Regions from separate parts of the Homo sapiens genome. Here region 2 is linked to region 1. The links come from fine-mapping of genetic effects on gene expression. Tissue or cell type: T cells. Region 1 holds a variant in brackets; the other region holds the start of a gene. All regions are shown on one strand. Distances are between the middles of the regions.

Region 1 (8,088 bases):
ATGGGCTTGGGGCTGTGGTGAGCATGAAGTGAAATGCACTCCTGAAGTGGTCAGAAGAGTGTGTGACCCATGTACGTGCTCCATGCATGGCCACTTGGGCTATTATTGCCAATCCTGGCAACGGGGCTGTGAGGGCTTCTGAAGTGGGTGGTGATATCACTGCCAGATGCAGCCATCGACGGTATAGCTGCCCCCCACCACAGCAGTCTCTACAGTACCAGGAGGTAGGCGGTTTTAACCACTTGACACAGAAGCTGGTGGGCACACAGGGAGGGGGAGGTCAGGGGCAGAGGGGACCCAGCCATTGGGAGCCAGAGCCACCATGCAACCCCAGGACAGTTAACCTGTAAGTCCCCTTCCTCAGCCTCAGACCTGGAGGTTTGGGGGATGGCAGAAGTAGGGGAGTGCCTGGCTTTGCATCCCACTGGCCGAGGAGTGGTTCTGTCCCCCAGATGTGGACCTGTCGGAGAACCAGCTGGGAGTGGCAGGAGCCCAGGCCCTCTGTGCCGCCCTCACAGTGAACCAGGCCATGCGGAAGATGCAGCTGTCAGGGAATGGCCTGGAGGAGCAGGCGGCCCAGCACCTTGCCGAACTCCTGCTGGCCCACACAGACCTGAAGTCCCTGGACCTGAGCTACAACCAGCTGAATGACCAAGCAGGTAACGCCTGCGCAGGGCACCATGGCCATGAAAGCTCAGCTTCCTGGGGCAGGGATGGGTGGGGGTTGGCAGGACCGCGCTGCACATCGCCAGGGAGCATGTGCTCTGGTTCCTGCTCCCCACACCCCACCTTGCCCCACTCCTCTTCCACTCCAGCCACACGGAACTCTTCATTCCTTCCACAAATATCTCATTGCGCGCTGCTGTATGTGCTGGGCACTGACTTAGCCACCAGGGATCCACCTTGAACAAAACCAAGTTCCTGACCTCAAGGGACAATGTTAACAACATCATTCTGAGTAATTATTGGTGCTACAAAAGAAACAAATAGTTTATGATTCTAGAGAAGAACAGGGACCCCCTACTTTAAAGAGGTGGCTGGGGAGGCCTCTGTGAGGTGACATTTAAGCTGAAATGTGCAGGGTGGGAAGGAGTCAGCCATGGCAAGATCAGAGGGAGAGCATTGCAAGCAGAGGAATAGTGAGCATGCGGGCCTGTTTCCCAGACTGGCGGACAGCAGTGTGCCTAGGCTAGGGAGCCAGGGAAGCGTGGCCAGGCTGTGGGGTGGAGAGGGCAGAGGGGGCTGCAGGGCTGTAGGCCGTGGCAAAAACGGTGAAGATTTTGTTTCAAGTGAGGTAGCGGATGTGATTGGGATTCCTTGATCTCATCACTGTCATGCCCCTGAGCATATTCAGGAGCTGTCTGCTTTGCCAGGAATTTGCACTTCTACCTGCCTCTCCTCAAATGGTCCAATAATGGTAAGGATCACCTGAGACCCTGGGTTAGGCATGCAGATGCTGACCCTGGACCTGCTGAACCAAACTCTTAGGGGAATGCTGGTGAATCTGTATTTTAATGGTTGCCCCAGGAGAATCGTCTTTTTATTTTTTATTTTTTGAGACAGAGTCTCGCTCTGTCACCCAGGCTGGAGTGCAATGGTGTGATCTCTGCTCACTGCAGCCTCTGCCTCCCAGGTCCAAGCAATTCTCCTGCCTCAGCCTCCTGAGTAGCTGGGATTACAGGTGCGTGCGACAAGGCCTGGCTAATTTTTCTATTTTTAGTAGAGATGGGGTTTCACCGTGTTGGTCAGGCTGGTCTCGAACTCCTGACCTTGTGATCCGCCCGCCTTGGCCTCCCAAAGTGCTGCGATTACAGGTGTGGGCCACCGCGCCTGGCCGAGAATTGTTTTTCAGAAGCACTCCTCTGTCTCCAGCTGCTTAGAGCAAGTGGGGTGACATCAGCCTTGGCCTGTGAGAATTGCCTCTGGCATATAACTGCCAGAGAACCAGTTTGCCTTCTAAGAAAATTATTGCAAGAAGTCAGTGAAATTAAGTGAGGTGGCCGGGCCCGGTGGCTCACGCCTGTAATCCCAGCACTTTGGGAGGCCAAGGCAGGTGGATCATGAGGTCAGGAGATCGAGACCATCCTGGATAACACGGTGAAATGCCGTCTCTACTAAAAATACAAAAAATTAGCCGAGTGTGGTGGCAGGCGCCTGTAGTCCCAGCTACATGGGAGGCTGAGGCAGGAGAATGGCATGAACCCAGGAGGCGGAGCTTGCAGTGAGCCGAGATAGCACCACTGCAGTCCGGCCTGGGCGAAAGAGCGAGACTCTGTCTCAAAAAAAAAAAAAAAAAAAAAAAAGTGAGACTTGGCAAGGCACTGTGCCTATCTGTAATGCCAACACCACTTCGGGAGGCTGAGGGGCGAAGATTGCTTGAGGCCAGGAGTTAGAAACCAAACTGGGCAACATAGGGAGCCCCAGTGGTGACAACAAATGATTAAAAAAATTAGCCCCGGGCAACAGAGCGAGACTCCGTCTCAAAAAAAAAAAAAAAAAAAAAAAAAATTAGCCCCAAGTGGTGACATGTGCCTGTAGTCTCAGTCAGGAGGCTGAGGTGGGAGAATTGCTTGAGCCCAAGATGTCAAGGCTGCAGTGAGCCGTGATTGTCCCACTGCACTCCGGGTTGGGCAACAGGGTGAGACCGTGTCTTAACAACAACAAAAAATACTTTCTTTCCTCTTTAGTGCCTGTTTCCCTGTTATGATGTTAAAAGCAGGTACTGTGATGTGCAGCTGGTTTCTGGCTCTTCTGCAGGCGCTTTCTTGTGTGTATAAATGTTCGCTTTGGTGTTCCTGTGAGGGTTGTAGGATGACCGCTGGAGGGTTCTGTTCGGCCATGTTGCTCCGCCTTCATCTCTAGGTCTCGCTATTTTGCCCAGGCTGGTCTTGAACTCCTGGCGCCAAGAAATCCTTCTGCCTCAGCCTCCTGAGTCGCTGGGACCACAGGCTCACACCACTGCCTGGCTTTCACCTTCCTTTCTCTACCACCCCCATCTCCTCTCTACCACAGCTGTGCCAGCCCTGTTGCCTCTTGCCTAGCCTATGGCACCAGCCTTCCATCTGGTCCCCCAGCCTCTTGCCTCTGCCCCCACCCAGCCCAGTCTATCCTGGACACCTGCCACTTGCTGAAATGCTAATCCAGCCTCATCACTTCCTAAGGCCCTCCCTGACTCCTTGCCACTTGTATGTGCTGCCTAAGCCCCTTGGCTTGGCACACAAGGCCCCTCAGCATCTCTCAAGTGCCCATTACTCCTTCCTCACCTCACTGGCTTCCCCCTCCCCAGGCCCAGCTCCAAGCCTGCGTGCATTTCCACAGGTGCCTCTGCCATTTGCAGTTTCCTGTGTCTCCTCCCCACTGTGCATAAGCCTGTGTGCATTTCCACAGGTGCCCCTGCCATTTGCAGTTTCCTGTGTCTCCTCCCCACTGTGCATGCACACACCCCTGGGGAATTCCTCAGTCCTGAGTTATCTCCTCTGTCCTCTTTCCTGACTTCCCCCAAGACAGGCTGGCCACCACTCTGTTCTCACGCCTCCCCCTTTTAGTCTAAATGAATAGCTCACATCCCATACATTTGCATTTGTATCTCCCCCATGAAATGTGAGTTCCTTAAGGGCACCGCAGGCCCACATTAGTTTCATGTCTGTGACCCTCCTGCCCAGCAGAGGCTCGGCACGCAGTGGGCATCAGTGTGATCTTTTGAAGGAGTGAAGAGAGTGAGTCAGAAGGTCTCTCTTGGTGTTTCTGAAGGGGAGACACTTGGACCAGCCCTGGCAGAAAACACAGGACTCACCGAGCTTAACGTGAGCTGGAATCACCTCCGGGGCCCAGGAGCTGTGGCATTTGCCAGGGGACTGGAGGTATGAAGCCCCCACCTAGTCGGCCCTACAGCCTGTCTGCTGGGGCCTGTCTCCCAGGGGCCACCTCCCTGTCTCTGCAGCTCCTCGGAAATGAACCTTGGATCTTTTAAGCACAGCTTAAAGACTGTTTCTTTAGGTGATTTTAATTTTCCTGGCTTCACTTAGTGACCACAATACACTGTGCTCACCGTCACATACTTTCCTGAAGGGTCACTGTTGAATATCTTGCACCTTCCCCAGACACCATAGACACCCAGCTGGGAAGGGACATCTGT[G/A]CAGTCTGGTGACACATGCTCACTGTTGGGCATACGCAGGTGGTTTCCTGAGATGACACCTTGCACCCTTGGATGCCAGCACAGCCTCTCAAACACCCACCTGTTCCCTTCCATGTTGTGGTTCATAGGGCTCGGGAATGGGTGGCTCAAGCTGGTGCTAGGGTGGTACAAGGTGTCTGCAATGTCCCCAGTGCCAGATACCCTGTGGGGCCCTCCTCAGGCCATGGCAGCTGCTGTCTTGCCCTGATGCAGGGGCTGACCTTGGGGTCCTGCCCCACAAGATGGCATGTCACACTCTGTCTTGCCAGAGCACCTACCCTTCTCCCCATCACAGTACGCTGGACAGGTTTCATCCAACAGCTGTTCACTGGATCTTGGGATCCCTGCCCTCTAGAGCCATTAAGTGGGTGTGGAGTCCGATCAATGTTTCTGGGGCCTGCTGCTGCTCTGCACACGCCCCTCCCAGTCTCTCTGAGGGCCATTCACGTCTACACCGGTCCTTTCCTGTTGTGCTCTGGGCCACTGGGCTCTGTTGACCACCATCATCCAAGCTGCAGCCACCAGGGGGTCTGCATGGCACTTTCCTGACCCTTCCTTGGAGCCTCTCCCCTTCTGCCCTTTATCTCTTATCTTTGCACCTCAGGGCTCCTGGTCTCTGAGGCTGTGGCACCCTGGCTTGCTCCACTGTCAGATGGGGTCCCATGACTTCACTCTTTGGTATTCTAGGCAAACATCTTCCTTAAAGTTCTAGACATCTCATACAATGGCTTTGGGGATCCTGGAGCCTCTGCGGTGGGTGAGGCTCTGAAGGCCAACAACGTGTTGGAGGAACTCAACATGAGGTGAGGATCCCCGGGGGGACACCCCAGGAATCATGGGCTCCATGATCTTGCTGCTGAAGCACACAGTCTACCCGTGATGGGGATTCCCGTGATGGGGCTTGAGCCACAATCCCAGAGCAGCTCTGTCATCCTTATCACTGGAGTTTATAATTTTATTTATTTATTTAAAACAGCATCTTGCTTTATTGCCCAGGGTAGAGTGCAGTGCTGTGATCATGGCCCACTGCAGCCTTGGCCTTCCCAGCTCAAGCAATCCCACCACCTCAGCCTCCCAAGTAGCTGGGACTACAGGAGTATGTCACCAAGCCTGGCTAATTTTTTCTTTTTTGTAGAGACAGTCTCCTGCTGGCCTTGAACTCTTGGGCTGAAGCAGTCTTCCTGCCTCAGCCTCCCAAAGTGCTGGAATTACAGTCATGGGGAGTTCATCGTTGTTACATAGAGACCTGTGATTCCTATAGCACAGGCGGATGGCTGCGAATTGCACACGGTGTATAAAGCATCTCCGGCAGAGCCTGGTGCATGGTGGGTGCTCCATGCAAGCTTTCCTCCCTTGCAGAAGACGAGCCAGGGCCAGGTTCTGTGGCTCACAACTGTAATCTTAGCACCTAGGAAGGCTGAGGCGGGAGGATCCATTAAGGACAGGATTTTGAGACCAGGCTAGGCAATATAGCATGACTCCATCTCTATGCGAAATCTAAAAATTGTCCATTTCCGGTGGCATACACCTATCATTCCTGGTACTTGGGAGGCTGAGGCAGGAAGATTGCTTGAGCCGAGGATTCAGGATTTCAGGCTGCATTGCAACAGAGCGAGTAAAACGAGCCTAGTCTGGGTGGGGCAAGGCAGGACCCTGACAAGTGGGCCCCAGTGCCTGTTTTGCTCAGCATGTGGCTACTGGAGCATGCCCTGTGTGAGGGGCTCCTCCAGGCCAGGCAGCGTCCCAGCCTAGCCAGGAGGCACAAGCCCAGAGGGAAGAAAAGAGGCGGATGCCAGGGAGGTCACGGGCCAGAGGCCAGGGAGGTCATGGGCTGCTGTGGCTGAGACCCTCCCCAGGGGCAGCTCCCTGTGGGCAAGAAGGCCCCACTCAATCCTGCCCAGCTTTCCTCCCCATGGGAGGAGCTAAGACTGGAGGCAGCCGCGGAGGCTGAATACGGAGGTGCAGCCAGAGCTGGGGTCTGAGAAGTCAGAGAGAAGCGGGACTGACTCCGGAGACAAAGTGGTCCAGGGCGGTGCTGAGGACTGGAGTTTGGGAACGGCAGGAGGAGGAGAGGCCTTGAACATAAGCTAGGTGATTTTCTGGAACAGGCGTTGTAATGGTGATAGGCATGAGGTGTCAGCTGGGGCAGAATATGTGGGAGCACTTGCAGAGCTCAGAGGAGCGGCAGCTGGTGTCCACCAGGACAGGGACGCTTTAGGTGTGTTTGCCGTGTGATTCCTCTGAACGGTGTCATCTCCACCTTTTACCTGTTGATCTGTCCAGGGTTCCTGGGGTGTGAGTGGAGGGAACAAGAGACCCAACCTGGTGGCTGCAATGGCAGCTCCAGTGGGCACCCTGGGGCAGTGGGCTCTGCACCGCTGCTTGGAAGGTTGCACAATGCATGTGCCTGTTGTTTTTGTTGCAGTAACAACCGCATCTCTGCGATGGGAGCCCTGAGCCTGGGCCTGGGCCTCCGGGTCAACCAGACGCTGAGGATTCTTGTAGTGAGTGCTAGCCTGATGACTGAGACACCAGCACAGACCTGCCCTGTAACAGTCCACACAGATCCCTCCCCCACAGCCCCCACCCAGGGGCAGCAGGCAGGTGCACACAGGCTGGCTCACTCCCTTGCCACTCACCCTGAATCTGGGGCCTGGCCCTCCTCTTCTCCCCTTCATCCCTCCCAGCCTCTCTCCCACATCTTCTTGCTGCCCTTCCTCCTCTGTGGGCTGGGGTGCTGCTCTGCTGAAGGTGGCTGGGCACCCCTTGTGTCTCCCTCATCTTCTCCCCTGCCTTTCCTCTGGCCTTGCTGAGACCCAGGCCCCACCCAGGTGTTCTGTTGGCCACTGCTCAGGCCCACCTGAGGCCTGGTGTTCCCAGCTGGGGTTCCTTCCCCTGGGTTTGCAGGTGGGGAGGGAGTGCTGAGCAGGACAGGGAGCAGAAGACAGACACAGGAGGGAGGCAAGCCGGGAGCAGGTCCCCAGGGGACCACTGTGCCCACAGCAGGTACGTGCTGGGGGACAGTATTGCCAGCTGGGTATGGACATCCAGCTCTGTCGGCCCTCAGCTCCCCACCCTAGCCTTACTGGGCTTCTCCCATAGCTCTCCTCCCCTGCTTCCTGCCTCACAGGAACCTGGACCTCTCTGAAGCATAGACCTGCGTTTCGAGTCACCTCGTAGACAGTCCTCTAAATGTCCCAAAGACACGTGGGAATGTGAGAGTCCAACCTGAACGCATACCCCCCTCTAAGGGCCACCTCCTGGTGGGGGGCTCCTTCTTCCTTCTTCCCAAGTCACCAGCTGGGGCCCAGAGCCTGCCTGCCCCTCCCTTTTCCACACCCTCCCTCCCACCTTCTGCAGGGGCTCACCCTGCTGACTCCTCCCTCTTCTGACTTCCTCTCTTAGCTTCTGTGAACTTGCGGGATTCCTGGCTGCGGTTCTTTCTTCCCAGCTGCTACCCAGGACCAGAAACATGCCCTGCTTTAAAACTGTTGGAGTTTTATCCCCTCTGGATAAACCCAAGCTTTGAGTGCATCATGTCATGCGGAGCTAGGTGTGGTGGCTCACGCCAATAATCCCAGCACTTCGGGAGGCTGAGGCAGGCAGATCGCTTGAGGTCAGGAGTTTGAGCCCAGACTGACCAACATGGTGAAACCCTGTCTCTACTGAAAACAAAAAGATGAGCCAGATGTGGTGATGCACACCTATAATCCCAGCTACTCTGGAGGCTGAGGCAGGAGGATCCTTTGAACCCAGGAGGTGAAGGTTGCAGTGAGCTGAGATCTCACCACTGCACTCCAGTCTGGATGACAGAGCAAGACTCTGTCTCAAAAAAAAAAAAAAAGTAACATAGCATGTCATGGGGGATCTGGGCTCTGCCAGCCCCTCTCTTCCAAGTTCAGTGCTCTCACCCC
Region 2 (8,088 bases), 20 kb before region 1:
CAGGCCTGGGCACTTGTGCACCCATGTAGGAGCATGAGGGCCACACTCTTTTCACCTCAAAGCCCTTGAAGAGTGGGCAAAGACAGCAAGAGAGCTGCAGCCTGGGCCCGAGCTCAGAAACAGCTGTCGCCTCAGTCTGCGCACAGGCATGCACCCCAGGGTAGTGCCTGCAGGGATGCATGTGTCCCCGTGGGGGTGCCTGTGCCAGGCAGGCCTCAGGTGCATGCCATGCTCAGAACCCTGCTGCCCTTTCTAGGCAGCCTCCTTGGGGCCCAAGCTCTGCTCCCTGGATCTGCCACCTAGCAGACGTGGGGAGCCTGACCCCATGCCTGTCATGGAACCCTCCTTGCCTGGTGTGTGTGGCTCCCCTCTTCACTGGGCACCTGGATCCAGGCCCACCTGTGTCCCTGACTCAGGGTGGTCCCAGGACTGGCACCTACTCTTTAGAGAGCCCCAGCATCTTTGATGTGGATTGGAGACAATTGCCTGGTTCCCTGGGGCAGGTGAAGACTTGGTGCCACAAAGAATGCCACAGTGGATACGCCAGCAGGCCACATGGCTGGCCAAGCAATTATTATTATGGATCCCTTGGGCTGTGGGCCTTCCCATCCACCCCACCACAACTGCCCAGGTAGCTGGAGCTGATCATAAACAAGAAGGCTCTGGGCAGAGTCCATGGCACCAGCACCAGCCAAGGCCCACTCCTGAAGACCCGAAGCCCAGCCCCTGGATGAAGGTCCTAAGGTCCTGAGGACTCCCCAGCCTGTGCAGGCCTGCAAACCCAGGCTGCCCACAACAGAAGGGGCTCTCGGCTTGTCTGGCCTCTCTGGCCTCCCAAGCAGGTGTGGGAGGGCGGGGCAAGTGTGGGCTGATCAGCTACTCCATATGGCCAGGGTCCTGTGCTGGTGCCTGGCTGGGGGGCTGCATAGCCTGCACTGTCTCCTCCAGGCTGCCCCTGGGGAATACCACGTAGTGTGTGGAGTTCAGCCCTGGCAGCTCCCGCTGGTTCTCCTTGCTATGCCGGATGCCATAGCCGAAATACACTGCAAGTCCTAGACAGGGCAGGAGGCAGGGCATGAGCCTGAGGTACAGGTTCCAGCCCTTCCTGTCCTCTTTGCCCTCCTCCTGACCCCGGTCCCAGCCTGGCCCCCACTCACCCATCAGCAGCCAGATGGAGAAGCGCACCCAGGTCAGATAGCTAAGTTTCAGCATGAGGCAGATGTTGAGGACGATGCTCAGGGCTGGAATCAGGGGAACCATGGGGATCTGAGGAGGCAGAGGCAGGGCAGGGCTGGGCCGGGCTGCAGGAAAGATCTGCCAGCCCAGGGCTCACTTTCTCGGGAATCCATAGAGCCTTTGTTCCTCACGGGAGATTGTGGAGACATGTGCTCACTCACCATGCAGAAAGGGGTGCGGGATGGGTGTGTGGTCCTCCCCAGCCCCGTGAGACTTGTTCATTCTGGGATGGTAGTGGGGGAAGGGGAGGCAGCTGCCTGGGCCGAGTGTGAGTGGGTGTTGGCTAGGGGAGGTACCTGAAATAAGTCTTCCCGATACTGTTGCTGGTGAGCCCCCAGGACAAGGAGGCTGAGCAGAAACATGACACTGGTGAGCAGGAGCAGCAGGATGTAACCCCAGTGTGGGAGGTGCAGGGTCGAGTTCCCAAAGACAAGCACGCAGCCTATGGTGATGGCTGAGGCCAACATAACGCCAAGCGCCCAAGTCACCACTGCTCCAGGGCTGTACCCATCCAAGAAGCCCAGGTAGGGCCTCAGGGCTGGCTTCAGCTCCCCTGGCTCAGGGACGGAGGCGTGTACAGTGCCCACCAGCTGTAGGTGGTCTGAGAAGGAGCTCTGCTGCTTGGTCAGGGGGCCAGGGCTGGCTGGGCCTGGGGAGCTGGGCGGGGAAGACTTCTGGAAGCGCAGCACAATGATACTGGTGGCCACGAATGTGTAGGCCAGGAGTGTGCCAAGGGACAGGAACTGAACCAGCGACTCCAGGTCCAGCAGCAGTGCCAGGAAGGCCGTGAGGAGCCCGAACGCCAGGGTGCCCGCCACAGGCACCTGTGTCCGGGGGTGCACATGGGCAAACACCTGGAAGAAGAGCCCATCGGCGGCCATGGCATAGACAATGCGTGGCAGGGAGAAGAGGAGGCTGAGCAGGACGGTGTTCATGGCTGTAGCAGAGAGAGTGGGGAGGGTCAGCATGGCGGAGAAGCCCACCAGGGGCCTCTGCTGGGGGTCGGTGCATGGGTGGCTCCTTGGGAACAAGGGCATGAGCTTGTCTGGGCTCTCAGAGTAAGCATGAGTTTGTGTAGGAGTAATAGATTGTCAGCGCTTTGCCCAAGAACAGGACATCTGGGTTAGGTCACAGGCCCACTGGAGCATCGGATGAGGGCTGAGTCCCTCTGCCTAGGAAATAATCTATAAGGACATGCCCAGAACTAATATGCTATGGACCATGTGTGGGGCGGTCCCTTCCAAAGTTTCTGAAGAAACTTTTTTTGAAGTGAAGAGTTTCTAATAATTAGCACTTTCCTTGCCCCATTATGCAACTAGTAAAACAGCCCCAGTTGAAGGTGCATTCCCCAAGAATCTGAGGACAAGGTCCCCCTTGCTCTTTTCCCTGCCACCCTGCCCAGGAAGAGTCTCTCACCGCAGATGGAGCCAGCTGCCACGATGAAGCCAGCCCACCTGTAGCCCCGCTGGTAGAAGGCATCTGCAAGCGCTGAGTCGGGGTCCAGGCTGTGCCAGGGCACCATGAGGGTTAGCACGGTGGAGACAAGGATGTAGGCACCAGCTGCAATGGCAAGCGAGATGGCGATGGCCAGAGGCACAGACCGCCGTGGGTTCTGGGCCTCCTCACTGGAGGCGGCAATGACGTCGAAGCCCACGAAAGCATAGAAGCAGGAGGCAGTGCCGGCCATGACGCCGGAGAAGCCGAAGGGTGCAAAGCCGCCTTCGTCAGCGCTCCAGTTGTGAGGCTGGGCCAGGATGAAGCCCAGGATGACAATGAAGAGAATGACAAGCAGGCTGATGGCCGAGAAGGTGTGATTGAGCCAGGAGGACACGCGGGCTCCACAGGAGACAAAGGCAGAGGCCAGGAGGATGATGCCAGCAGCCAGGAAGTCCGGGTAGTGGCCCAGGAGGGGCACCTGCCAAGAACCCACGTGGGTCTCAGTGAAGTTGCGGATGCTGTGGCTGAACATAGAGTCCAGGTAGCCACTCCAGGCACGGGCCACGGCGGCGCCACCGATGATGTATTCGAGGAGAACATTCCAGCCGATGAGGAAGGCCCACAGCTCGCCCATGGATACGTAGGTGAACAGGTAGGCAGAGCCCGTGCGTGGCACACGTGCCCCAAATTCTGCATAGCATAGGGCTGCCAGCAGGGAGGCCACAGCGGCCACACCGAAGGACAAGAGCACAGCAGGGCCAGCCACCTCCTTGGCCACGGCACCTGTGAGCACGTAGAGACCCGAGCCCACCATGCCACCCACGCCCAGAAGAGTCAGGTCCAGCGTGGACAGGCAGCGCCGCAGTGACGTCTCCATGGTGGAGTCCTCCAGCGGCTTCAGGCGGTTCAGCTTCTGGCATAAGCGTGCCAGGCTAGCAATGGTGGGCAGCCCCCGGGCCATGGCAGGTGGCCGAGAAGAGCACCGAGCCAGCTACTGGAACCTGCTAGGGCCAGAGGGGAATGACAGGATGCGTAGCCGGGGCCTGACCAGCCTTCCATCCCTCCTGGTCTGACCACCCCCAGTCCTCTCTCTGTCCCTGACCTGGGGACCTGGACACCCTCACCAGGGGCCTGCTGGAGAGCTGGAATGGGGCAGGTGTCAGAACCTGTGGGCAGGAGGTCACAGGAAGCCTGGAGGCCCTGTCTGCATCCCAGGCAGCAAAGGAGGCCTGGTGAGGCCCCACCTGCTCACCCGCTCGGTGGCCCTGAGGGGTGGGGAGGGAGCAGCTCCAGGGGGAGCAGGGTGAGAGGCTGGGAACGGCTCAGTGGTGGGGTCCCAGAGCCAGGTGAAACCGAGGCTTCCCCAGAGTCGAGCCGGACCCGGAACAGGAGCCGCGGCTCTGCGTCGGGGCGGGTGTGGCCCAGGCAGCCACCTGGCCACAGACAGACAGTGGCGGCTACATACACCCCCGCCCCTGCACCCGTGGCCAGGCTGGGGTATCCGCGCGCCAGGCGGAATGCAGGGGCGCCCTGGGCCCGCACACCTCCCCATGTCCGACACGCCGCTGCTGCTAGAGCCTGCTCCGCCGCGCCCCCGTCCCCGGACACCTGCGCCTTCGCCTGTTCTTGGGCCTGAGCCCGTCCCAGTCCCCGTCCCCGCAGGATCTGCTGCAACCCACCTGCTGCTGCCGCAGCCGCTGCCTCCGCTCTGAGCACTGAGCCCGCCCAGTTCGCCGGCGCCGAGCGCAGGGCCCGCCCCCATCCCAGGCCCCCCGCGCGGCCCCACCCGCTGCCACACACCCAGATATTTCACCCTGCCCACTCTGCCCGACCTCGCAAGGTCGTTACCGGAGCTCACCGGGGTCTAGGGAAGCCCTGTGACTGTGACTCAGTCACAGATGGAGAAGGTCAGACCGCCGGCTGACTGACTAGCCTAGGTCAGTTCGGGGAGGTTAAGGGCCACGTCTGAAAGTCCGCAGCCCACCTTCTTTCTACTGCAGCGGACACCCTTCTTGATCCCTCACCCCAGTACATGAACCCCACCCAGCTGGGCCCCAGACAGGCCCCACAGCACCGTCATGTGAGCTTCAGGCACAGTGAGTTAGATGAAGACATGGGTCTGGCAGAGTGGCCTGGGGCGGTCCCTGACCTCTACTCTTACAATGGAAGAGACTGCAGCCTTTTGAGAGAGTTCTGCGAATTGAGGGAATGCATTCTGGCTGTTTTGAGCCTGCAGCTACCACGTCCTGCAAGGAAGCAAGCAGCTTCTGGGACCAGCCTGCAGCCCTCCTGTGGGGGAGTAGAGCTCCTCAGACCCCAGTGGCAGCCCTTCCTAGCCTAGGCACCTCTGGCAGGCCGGGAGGGCCCTATGGGACCCCAATAGCAGATCCCCACTTGTGTTTATCAGCGACAGCCACTGTGTCCTGAGTACTGCATTCCAGTGCCCCACGCCCCAGGCAGGCAGCTATGCAACAATACACCTGGCTAATTTTTTAATTTTAATTTTTTTAGAGACTGGGTCTCACTATGCTGCCCGGGCTGGTCTCGAACTCTTGGCCTCCCAAAAGGCTGTGATTACATTCATGAACCATGGCTCCTGGCCTCCCCAGAACGCTATACTAGACATGTGTTCAGGCTTACATGTGGTTTGTGGAATGGAATCTTAGGAGCATCTGCAGCCTATCCAGCCTATTGGGCTGGTGACAGGATGATGGACTCCCAGACAAGATGGTGCCAATTTGGAACATTCTGCCTCGGCCAGAATGCCAATACCTTCTAATATTTGGCTGGTATTGTCTTGAGGAACTTCTCAGATGGCTCCCACTTCCGGTGGGATGGTAGCTTCCTTACCCCATCCCTGTGTTGCCTGAGCAGACGTCCCTTGTCCTGAAATGTCACCACAAAAGTCTAGGCACTTCAGGCCAGAGGGTTAGGCAGATTTGTAATGGGAGCTCCCCAAAGGCCTTACCAATGACTGCCTTATTGCTGGTGTCCAGTGTTTTGGAGTGTTGACTTTTTATCTACCTGGAGAAGGTGTGACACCACACCCTCTGCCACAGGCACCAACATACAACGGATATGTGAGACTAAGCAGGGCTGATGCAGTAAATTGTACATTTCCAGAGATATTTCCCTCACTACTGAGTGAGACAGCTACACAGAGCAACCCCACAGTGATGCAGTGAAGACAAACCACCAGGAAACAAAAACTTTCTAACTCATTCTGCAAGGCCAGGATTACCCTGACACTAAACTCAACAAAGACATCACAAGAAAAGAAAACCACAGACCAAAATCCCTTATGAATATAGATGTAGAAATCCCCAGCAAAACACAGTGGACTCTTGAACAACACAGGTTTACTAATACATAGATATTTTTCAACCAAATGTCGATCAAAAATACAGTATTTGGCTAGGCCCAGTGGCTCACACCGGTAATCCCATCACTTTGGGAGGCTGAGGTGAGAGGATCACTTGAACCCAGGAGTCTGAGGCTGCAGTGAGCTATGATCCTGTCACTGCACTTCAGCCTAGGTGGCAAAGCAAGACCCTGTCTCCAAAACTACTAAATAAATAAATTAAAATAAGTGGTGGGTGCCTGTAATCGCAGCTACTTGGGAGGCTGAGGCAGGAGAATCGCTTGAACCCGGGAGGCAGAGGTTGCAATGAGCTGAGATGGCGCCATTGCACTCCAGCGTGGGTGACAGAGCAAGACTCTGTCTCAAAAAAAAATAAAAAACAAAAAACAAAAAATTCATATGGAAATGCAAGGGATCCAGAATAGCCAAAATACTTGGGTATTTTGCCTGGGTAACATAGGGAGACCTCACCTCTACGGAAAGGTAAAAAAATTATATGGGCATGGTGGCATGTGCCTGTGGTCTCAGCTACTGGGAGTCGGGGGTGGTGTTGAGGTGGAAGGATTTCTTGAGCCTGGGAGGTTGAGGTTGCAGTGAGGCATGTTTGTGCCACTGCACTCCAGCTTGGGTGATAGTCAGACCCTGTCTCAAAAAAAAAAGAAAAAAGTAAAGAAAGAAATTAAAGGCAACATAAATAAATGGAAAGACATCCCATGTTCATAGACTGTAAGACTTTAAATATAAAATGGCAGTATTCCCCAAACTGGTCTACAGATTCAGGGGTTGCATAGATTGAGTGCAATTCCTATTGAAATCCCAACTACCTGTTTTGCAAAAATCATCAAAATTCATGTGGAAATGCAAGGGATCCAGAATAGTCAAAATACTTTTGAAAAAGTTTTGGAGGACTTACAATTCCTGATTTCTAAACTGATTGCAAAATGACTGTAATCAAGATTGTGGTGGTGACATAAGAGTAGACACATAGATGAACGGAATAGAATTGACAGTCCACAAATAAACAGTTACATTTATCGTCAAGTGATTTTTTAAAAATAGACTTTATTAGCTGGGAATGGTGGTACACGCCTGTAGTCTCAGTTACTCAGAAGGCTGAGTTGGGAGGATGGCTTGAGCCTAGGAGGCTCAAGGCTGCAGTGAGCTTGATCATACCTGTGAATAGCCTCTTCACTCCAGCCTGGGCAACATAGCAAGACCCTGTATCTAAAAAAAAAAAAAGTTGAGTTTTCAGAGCAGTTTTATGTTCACAGCAATATTGAGCAGAAAGTACAGTTCCCATATACTTCTGCTCCCACACACGTGTAGCCCCCTCTCCCACTACTGACATCCAGCACCAAAGGGGCATATTTGTTACAATCGATTAACCTACATTGACACATCATTATCACCCAAGGTCTATAGTTTACATTAGGGTTCATTCTTCCGGTTGTACATTCTATGGGTTTGGACAAATGTGTAATGACACATAGACACACCATTATTGTATCACACACAGTAGTTTCATTGCCCTAAAAACCCTCTGTGCTCTGCCTGTCCCTCCCTGCTAACACCTGGCAACCACCGATCTTTTTCCTGTCTCCATAGTCTAGTCTTACTTTTGCAGAATCTTATATAGTTGGGATTATAGAGTATATTGCCTTTTCAGGCTTCTTTCCCTTAATAATATGCATTTGAGATTCCTCTATGACTTTTCATGGCTGAATAGCTCGTTTTAATTTTATTTTTTATTTTTGAGACAGAGTCTCACTCTGTCGCCCAGGCTGGAGTGAAGTGGAGTGATCTTGGCTCACTGTAGCCTCTGCCTTCAGGATTCAAACGATTCTCATGTCTCAGCCTCCCGAATGGCTGGGGACTGCAGGCGTGCACTGTCACACCAGGCTAAATTTTGTATTTTTAGTAGAAATGGGGTTTTCCCATGTTGGCCAGGTTAGTCTCAAACTCATTTCCTCAAGTGATACACCTGCTTCAACCTCCCCAATGTGCTGGGATTACAAGCGTGAGCCACCCAACCAGGCCTGTGCTATTTCTAAAAT

What was found. PIP is the estimated chance that this variant, and not a neighbour inherited with it, causes the effect.
Region 2: SLC7A4 starts here. The variant in region 1 is fine-mapped to the expression of SLC7A4 in T cells (TOPMed, PIP above 0.99).

The regions. Positions count from the first base shown.
Region 1 is chr22:21,048,499-21,056,586 of GRCh38, forward strand. It overlaps LRRC74B (leucine rich repeat containing 74B), which reads left to right. Exons shown (of 10, transcript NM_001291006.2): 4 at 453-659; 5 at 3,751-3,860; 6 at 4,862-4,977; 7 at 6,600-6,678. Among named protein-coding and RNA genes, the nearest start is that of LRRC74B, 6.6 kb to the left of the region's middle. RefSeq lists enhancers at 3,864-4,377, 4,378-4,889, 7,095-7,627. The variant G/A (reference allele first, on the strand shown) is at 4,136.
Region 2 is chr22:21,028,179-21,036,266 of GRCh38, forward strand. SLC7A4 (solute carrier family 7 member 4) reads right to left here and starts at 4,383. Exons shown (of 5, transcript NM_004173.3): 1 at 4,353-4,383; 2 at 2,653-3,674; 3 at 1,533-2,173; 4 at 1,158-1,266; 5 at 540-1,052. The coding sequence starts at 3,634. The coding sequence ends at 877. It overlaps MIR649 (microRNA 649), which reads right to left and starts at 6,094; the gene lies at 5,998-6,094. RefSeq lists an enhancer at 3,929-4,439.